Homo sapiens: one gene and its partner. Each later gene encodes a partner of the first gene's protein in a complex. Each region holds a gene or a part of one and is shown on either strand. Other genes may lie near its edges.

Region 1 (3,500 bases):
GATCTGACAGTACCTCCTTCCCTATAAAATCAGACTGAGCATTTCATTAAAGGTGAGAATAACTTGGGAGGCTTGACTCACAGCTTGGGCTTTAGTTGCTACAGAAGTTCAGCCCACCTGCTCCAAAAGGGCACCCTTGCTTTCTCCCTACCTCAGTGCAAGGAGTTCCCAGCTAGGGCTGGGTGCGGTGGCTCACGCCTATAATCCCAGCACTTTGGGAGGCCGAGGTGGGCAGATCACCTGAGATCAGGAGTTTGAGACCAGCCTCGCTAACATGGCAAAACCCTGTCTCTATTAAAATACAAAAATTAGCTGGGCGTAGTGGTATGCCCCTGTAATCCCAGCTACTTAGGAGGCTGAGGCAGGAGAATCACTTGAACTCGGGAGGCGGAGGTTGCAGTGAGCCAAGATTGCACCACTGCACTCCAGGCTGGGTGACAGAGCGAGACTCCATCTCAAAAAAAAAAAAAAAAAAAGGAGCTCCCAGATGACAGGAGATGGAAGCATCTGCTTGAGTGGGTGGTACTAAATCTTAGGGTGGGAGGCTGGCCTTTCGCACCCACCACCTCTGAAAGCTCATCTCTCCACATAGCCTGGATTCTCTCACCCCCTCTGCTCAGGCCTGTGGGGCAGGGGTGCCTCCCTGAGACAGGCCTGGGCTGCCCACACTGGGCTGTGATGGAGGAGTATGAACTCTCCTAGCAGCAGGGGCGAGAAATATCTTTATAAATTAGATATGTTGCTTGCTTGCTCAGTAGTTTCTTGTACCCCAAACCAAACCTAAATCCAAACTCCTTACTTTGACTTATCAAAGCCCAATCTCCTCTCCTACCAGTCTTCCTGGCTACAAAGTCCTCCTTTCAGTTCTTCCCACAGGCCGAACGCTCTCCAGCCTCAGGGCCTTGGCGTATGCTTGTTCCCTCTGCTTGGACTGCTTCCCCCACTTCCCTGCCTGGCCACCTCCTTTCCAGAGAGGTCTTCCCTGCTCACCTACCCAGACAGAACCGACTCCTGCACCCCGGAGATGTTTCAATTCCTTCACAGATCGACTACAATTTGTAATTTAAGGTTTGTTTTCTCTGTGAATTGTTTTCTCTGTCACCTTCGCTGGACAGAAAAATCCCATGAGGGGAAAGATGAGATCTATTTTGTTCTAAATTTCTCGTGCCCAACACATAATAAGCTCTCAATAAAGAAGTATTGAATGAATTTATCTGCCTGCCTCCTGGTATGCCCACATGGTTCAGGTGGGAGGGAGGTAACCATGGGAACAGAAGGGGAAGGGAAATGATGTTGTCCCCATAATGCCCCATGCGGTGGCACCAGGAGCTTTTCATGGGCTTTATTCCATTTGTTTATCACATTGGGGCAATATTCTCACATAATGCTGCAGCTGAGGAAACTGAGGATCAGAGAGGTTAAGTCAACTCACCCAGTGTCCCACAGCTAATAAGCAGAGCTAGGATATGAACCTAAGTCTGACTCCAAAGCCCATGTTCTTTCTGCTACGCCACGATGACCATTGATTGTGACTCAGGCCTGGCAGGGGAAAATAACTCCCAATGTCCCTTTAGGCCAAAATTTCCAACCCTTTGCTTTCAAGAACTCCTTTCTTATCTCTAAGCCCCATCTCTCTCCTCTGCACTGTTAAGAAAACACTTTTGGCTTGGTCTATAATGAGTGAGAAAATGGGACATCTTTTGAATGACTCTTTGAACCCAAGTGTTGTACTTTCTAAGGGGAGCATAAAAATCACGTCTGCTTTGGCTGAAGAGAGGACACCCTGACTAAAGACTTCTAGCCTAGTTATAACCCTGGGTGGTGACACAAGAAAGAAGATGGGACAGAGAATCTCTTATTGACTGAGGCCTTAGGACTGAAGTTCCCTCTTATCCCTCTTTGCAGAAATGTATCTTGCTGTAGCATTAGATTTCAGTAGTGAGGAACTGTCCTCCTTAGACCATGTTTATTGTGCATTAGGTGGAAAACTGAGGTAGAAGAGTAAGGTAACTTGCAATGTTAGGGTCTAGGGTTCTGTTTTTCTCCCTTCCCTGGGCCAAGCACAGATCACTTGGAGATGGTCTTGGTGGAAAGGAGCCTGTCCCTGAAGGTCCCGGGCTCCTGGCCCTTGTCAGCAGCCCTCCAGCACTGACCACTGCTCCCAGAGGTCTCATCCTACCTGTCTCCTGAGACAGCTGCAGAGCTCAGCTCTTCGGCCTCATGTCCACCCACTGTCACCGGTTAGGTCACTCAAACCCTGTCCTCAGTTCTGCCATTGCTCGCTTCACCACATCCCAAGTGGGACTCAGCTGCAGTGGAACAGATCCTTCCCCTGACACACTGGAATCTCCTTGTCCTCACTCAGAACATTCCATCTACCGCCATGTCTGACTTGTCTATTTAAACAATTCTCTATAGACCATACCAGCTAACAGGGAAAATAGATCTGGTTTGTGTAGAATGCTCTTTAAATATGAATCTAAGTGATAGATCATCAAAAACTTGAAAACTGGTTACACAGGAGATCCTGCAAAGGGAGGGATCATTCTCACCCAGAAATATCTCAGAAAGACTCAGAAAGAACAGCACTGCTTTGTTCTCTGACCACACCTGAGTGAAAACACACACTCACACCTCACTCTTCAGGCATTAAAAGGCACCAGGAAAGAAAGCTGAGAAAGATGGAAGTTTCTCTAAAGCCTGAACGTGCAGTAACAATACCACCATCACTTAAATTACTTTTTCTTTGTAGTCTTCCCTGTGGTCCAAATCAAATTACTTTTCCAATATTAAAAAATTATATAGTTTCCTCTCTTCTGGAATTCTGCCTAGCACTAGCCCGAGGATCAGTTTTGGGGAGCCCCTGCTCTAGGGTGCTTTGTACCATTGTCCCAGTACCCTGTACTCAGGTACATACGAAGCACTAGGCACGCAGTAAATCTCCCACACTCCTTTCTTCCCTTCCTTCCAAACATGTTCTTCATTTCCCTGTGGAACCCAGAACCATGTCATGCACACAAGCGCACGGTGCCCAGTGGCGTCCGTTGATGAAACGTGAACTCTATTTGCTCTAGTCTAGAGCCTTCTTTCTGACCTGTTGGCCCAGGCCTGGGTCACCACCTTTCCACTGGTCCTCAGCACATATATTCTGGGTCTGCCTCCCCTTAGTTCACTTCCAATTCATCACAAAAAAGTAGGTCCCAGCGACTCCATCTATCCACAATGGACAGCTTTCCTCCTCTCATCTGAATCCTGCCTTCATTTCAGATGAGGCCCAAGTCCCCTCTTCTAGAGTCTGGAGCCTCCTCACCTGCCTCCCAGCCTGAGTCTCTTTCTGTCTGGCTCACTTATCCCAGCCAGCCTCTCCCTACTGACTGTCCACTGCCTGAGGAACTTTACGTGTATTATCTTTAATATCCTAACAACCCTCTGAGGTGAACGTTATCATCCCCACTTTACAGATGAGGAAACAGAGGCTCAGAGAAGTGACAGAATTGAGA
Region 2 (4,152 bases), about 17 Mb from region 1:
GCTGGGAGTTGTCTGTGTCCACTCAGTGTAATCGAGGCAACCCCTGTGTAGCGGGGCTGAGGGATGGATGGAGGCCCATCCACCCAGGAGGGACTGACCACACCCAGCTGCCCTTTACACCTGCAGGCACGGCGGCCCCTCATCCTTATCTCTGGCATCAGGGCCACCTCCTGTACCTCGACTAAGTACTGCAGGGCCCCGCCCCACCCCTTGTCATCCATTAGGAAACATTCTGGGGCTCGGGGGATCCCGGACACCCTCTCAGCTCCTGCCCGGGGGCCCATGTGGTCAGTGTTTCTGTAAGGGGTAGTGGGGAGGGTGTGAAGGGGCCAGGGGGGCTCAGGCGGGCAGGAAGAGGGGAGGGTGGAGGTGTCACCTGGGGTGCCAGGAATCCACTCTGGCGTGAGGACTCCGGACCCTCTGTCTCGTGTGGCCTCGGACCAGTGGCTTGACCCCTCAGAGCCTGTGGAGCACGGAGCGTGCAGGGCTTGAAGGCGACCATGAGGGCACCGTGCAGGGTTAGGACACTGAGCCCAGCCCCAGCCATGAGAGGCCAGAAGCTTCGGCGCACAGGCCTGGAGGAGGAGAACTCCACCTACCCCTCACGACAGCCACTTCCTCGCCCCGACCCTACCCAGTGGCCTCTCCCTAGAGCTGGGGGCTTCTGGGGGGCCAATGAAAAGAGCAGGGCAAGTGTCGAGTCTCACCTCACCCCCTCTGTCGGGCACCAGGGCCCCCCAGGAACTCCCAGCTGCCCCTCACAGCCCCGCCTTAGCCTCAGTCACTAAGGCCCTGTCCAGCCCCGCCCTGAGAAGCCGACTTGTCTCTGGGGCAGGCAGGGGTGTCCCCAGGACACAGTGAGGAGAGCCTTTTCCTTCAGAACCTGCTGTCAGGCAGGGAGGGAGGTGCTCCCTGGGGAACACCCGGGTTCTGAGCCTCAAGGGGTGGCCTTAGGAACTTTGCCTGAGGGAGATCTTAGGGGAGGAGCCAAGCCAGGGCAGCCTGGGCTAGGGAGGCAGGTTCCAGACACCCCGACACCAAGGGCCGAGCCCCCGCCCCCAGCCCCCAGCTTCTCTCCCACACCCTAGCCCTGCCCCTGCCCTGCCCCTACCCCCACGGCACCCATGAGCCGCTCTCCAGTCCCTTCTGCCCTGTGCCTCGGTGCCTGTGACCTGAGCCCCCTGGTTGACCCCTGCACTCAGTCCAACTTGGGCCAAACGACTGCCCCTCCTTCTGGCAGTGGGCTGGACCAGCCGGCCAGCGGGAGCCCCCTTGGCAGAAGCCGGTCGTAAAGGATCATAAACTGGGCGGCGTCTGGCTGGGGCGAAGGTCGCTGAGGTAGGAACTGCGCCAGTCCTAGACGCCAGACCCGCTCAGACCCTCCTGCCAGGTGACAGCCGCCAAGATGGGGTCTTGGGCCCTGCTGTGGCCTCCCCTGCTGTTCACCGGGCTGCTCGTCCGACCCCCGGGGACCATGGCCCAGGCCCAGTGTATGTGCGGGCAGGGGTAGGTGGGGCACGGGCGGCGGGGAGCCAGGGGCTGGGAGGCACTGATCCCTCCTCTGCAACCTTACAGACTGCTCTGTGAACAAGGACATCTTTGAAGTAGAGGAGAACACAAATGTCACCGAGCCGCTGGTGGACATCCACGTCCCGGAGGGCCAGGAGGTGACCCTCGGAGCCTTGTCCACCCCCTTTGCATTTCGGATCCAGGGAAACCAGCTGTTTCTCAACGTGACTCCTGATTACGAGGTGTGGGCGGCAGGCGGGCGGGATATGGGGGTCCCGGGAGAAGGGCACCTGCATCCTCAGGCCACACCTCCCTTGGGGGCCTAGGAGTTCTATGCCTGCGGGCATCCACTGACACCCATGCTTGGTGGTGCCTGCCCTAGAAGGCTGGGCCATTTCGGGATGAAGCTGCCTGGGCCCACACCCTCAGCACTGACCACTGATGATGGGGACCCTGGGCCAGCGCCTGCCCACTTGGCCTCAGTCTCCCCACCTGTGGGGCAGGACGGTGACTGCAGACCTGTCTACATCCACAGGAGAAGTCACTGCTTGAGGCTCAGCTGCTGTGTCAGAGCGGAGGCACATTGGTGAGTCCCCGCCCCGCTCTCCCCGCCCCACCCGGCCACCTCTGCTGGGCTCTGCCCTGCCGGTCCAGGACCAGTCTTTGATGACGTCAGCTAGGGTGTGGTTTCAAATTCCACCCCCCCGAGGGTGATGCCCACATTTCCTCCAGTCCAGACTCTGCCCTGAGCTGTGGAGTCCCCGTCACTGACCCCTTGTCCAGCAGACACCCCATCCAGTGTGCCCAAGACTCCCACCCACTCCCTCAACCATCCACAAGGGAGGCACCTTTATCCTGCCAGTCACGGGGACCACCTTGGTTCCCACTCGCCCTCCCTCCCCACGTGTCCCCCACAGCCCCCCACTGGTAAATCTGTTGGCTGTGCCCCAGCTCGACCCAGAAATCCAGAGTCTGTCCACCTCCAGTCCCATCAGGGCCGGGACACCAGCACTCATTTTGGGAAACTTCCAGCTGGCCCACCGGCTTCCCTGTTGCCCTTTGCTGGCCCCAGTCCACTCCACGTGGCAGAACAGCCCCTGTGGATGTTGTAAACCAAGGCTGCCCAGCCCACCCCAGCCCTCCACGGCTCCTTTCTCACCGAGTCAAACCCAGACATACTGTGCAGAGGCTCCACTGCAGCCTCAGGGCTCCCGCCAGGCACGCCCCTCCCTCACCGGCTCAGGACTGCAGTCTTCAGAGAAATCCCAACCACCCTATGCCCTGTTGCATCCCAGCCCCGCTCCCCCAACATCCTGCTTCTTGACCGGCGGCATTTTTTTCGGCTTTATTAAGGAAAATTGCAGAATCCTGAGGCCAGCACAGGCCCCCTCACCTACCAGCACACAGCAGGCTCTGTGCCCTCCATGCACCACGGCACGTCACCTGCACATATCTTGGGATATGTCTCTGAAAGAGAGAGACTCTTTTTTGAGACAGAGTCTCACTCTGTCACCCAGGCTGGCGTGCAGTGGAGCGATCTCGGCTCACTGCAACTTCCGCCTCCCGGGTCCAAGCGATTCTCCTGCCTCAGCCTCTTGAGTAGCTGGGATTACAAGCATGCGCCACCACGGCCGGCTAATTTTTGTATTTTTAGTAGCGACGGGGTTTCTCCATGTTGGTCAGGCTGGTCTCAAACTCCTGACCTCAGGTGATCTGCCCGCCTCGGCCTCCCAAAGTGCTGGGATTACAGGTGTGAGCCACCGTGCCCGGCTGACAATCCAGTTTCTTCACAAATAAATCTCCAGGAAAAAAGATGGGAGAAAGGGAAAGGTACAGATGAACAGAAACTCAGGAGAATTACCAACCAGGTCCATAATGTGGGCCCTGATTCAAACAAACAATTGTTAAAAAACCCTTCAGAGACCACGGGGAATGTGGCATCCTGGACATTTGAGGTAGAAAGTGACCGCTTTTCCCAGGTGTGACAACGACATTGTGGTTATGTTCTAAAAAGAAGAGTCCTGGCTGGGCGCCGTGGCTCACACCTGGAATCCCAGCACTTTGGGAGGCCGAGGCGGGTAGATCACCTGAGGTCAAGAGTTCGAGACCAATGTGGCCAAAATGGTGAAACCCCGTCTCTACTAAAAATACAAAAATTAGCTGGGCATGGTGGCAGGCACCTGTAATCCCAGCACTTTGGGAGGCCGAGGTGGGCAGAGGCCGAGGCAGGAGAATCGCTTGAACCTGGGAGGCAGAGGTTGCAGTGAGCCGAGATCACACCACTGTACTCCAGCCTGGGTGACGACAGAGCGAGACTGTATCCAAAAAAACCCAAAAACCAAAAAACAAAAACAAAAACCAAAAAAAAAAAAAAACAGAGAAAAGAAAATGGATTGTCTTTCCTCACCTGAGATTCTGCTGGCTGCATCCCCAAGTACCTGCATTATTTTTCTGTGGAGCACCTGCCACCTCCTGGCTTTATAAAGTCCTTTTTGTCTGTTGTTATAAGTCCTGCCAGGACAGGCACCACCAGGCAGAGATTTGTCTCTTGTGATCTCTGAATCCCAACGCCTAGAGCTGTGCAGCCCCTGTAGCCCCCCAACAACTGAATGAGCGAGTGGACGGATGGCCGTCGAGGGGTGC

What was found.
Region 2: USH1C (region 1) and CDHR5 share a complex: the UniProt entries of both Homo sapiens proteins name them as parts of the IMAC/intermicrovillar adhesion complex.

Annotation. Positions count from the first base shown.
Region 1 is NC_000011.10:17,534,417-17,537,916, forward strand, and holds part of USH1C (harmonin), read right to left. Parts: intron 1-3,500. UniProt on the Homo sapiens protein: Anchoring/scaffolding protein that is a part of the functional network formed by USH1C, USH1G, CDH23 and MYO7A that mediates mechanotransduction in cochlear hair cells. Required for normal development and maintenance of cochlear hair cell bundles.
Region 2 is NC_000011.10:622,156-626,307, reverse strand, and holds the start of CDHR5 (cadherin-related family member 5 isoform 1 precursor), read left to right. Parts: upstream 1-1,352; 5' UTR 1,353-1,405; coding exon 1,406-1,490; intron 1,491-1,575; coding exon 1,576-1,751; intron 1,752-2,044; coding exon 2,045-2,095; intron 2,096-4,152. UniProt on the Homo sapiens protein: Intermicrovillar adhesion molecule that forms, via its extracellular domain, calcium-dependent heterophilic complexes with CDHR2 on adjacent microvilli. Thereby, controls the packing of microvilli at the apical membrane of epithelial cells.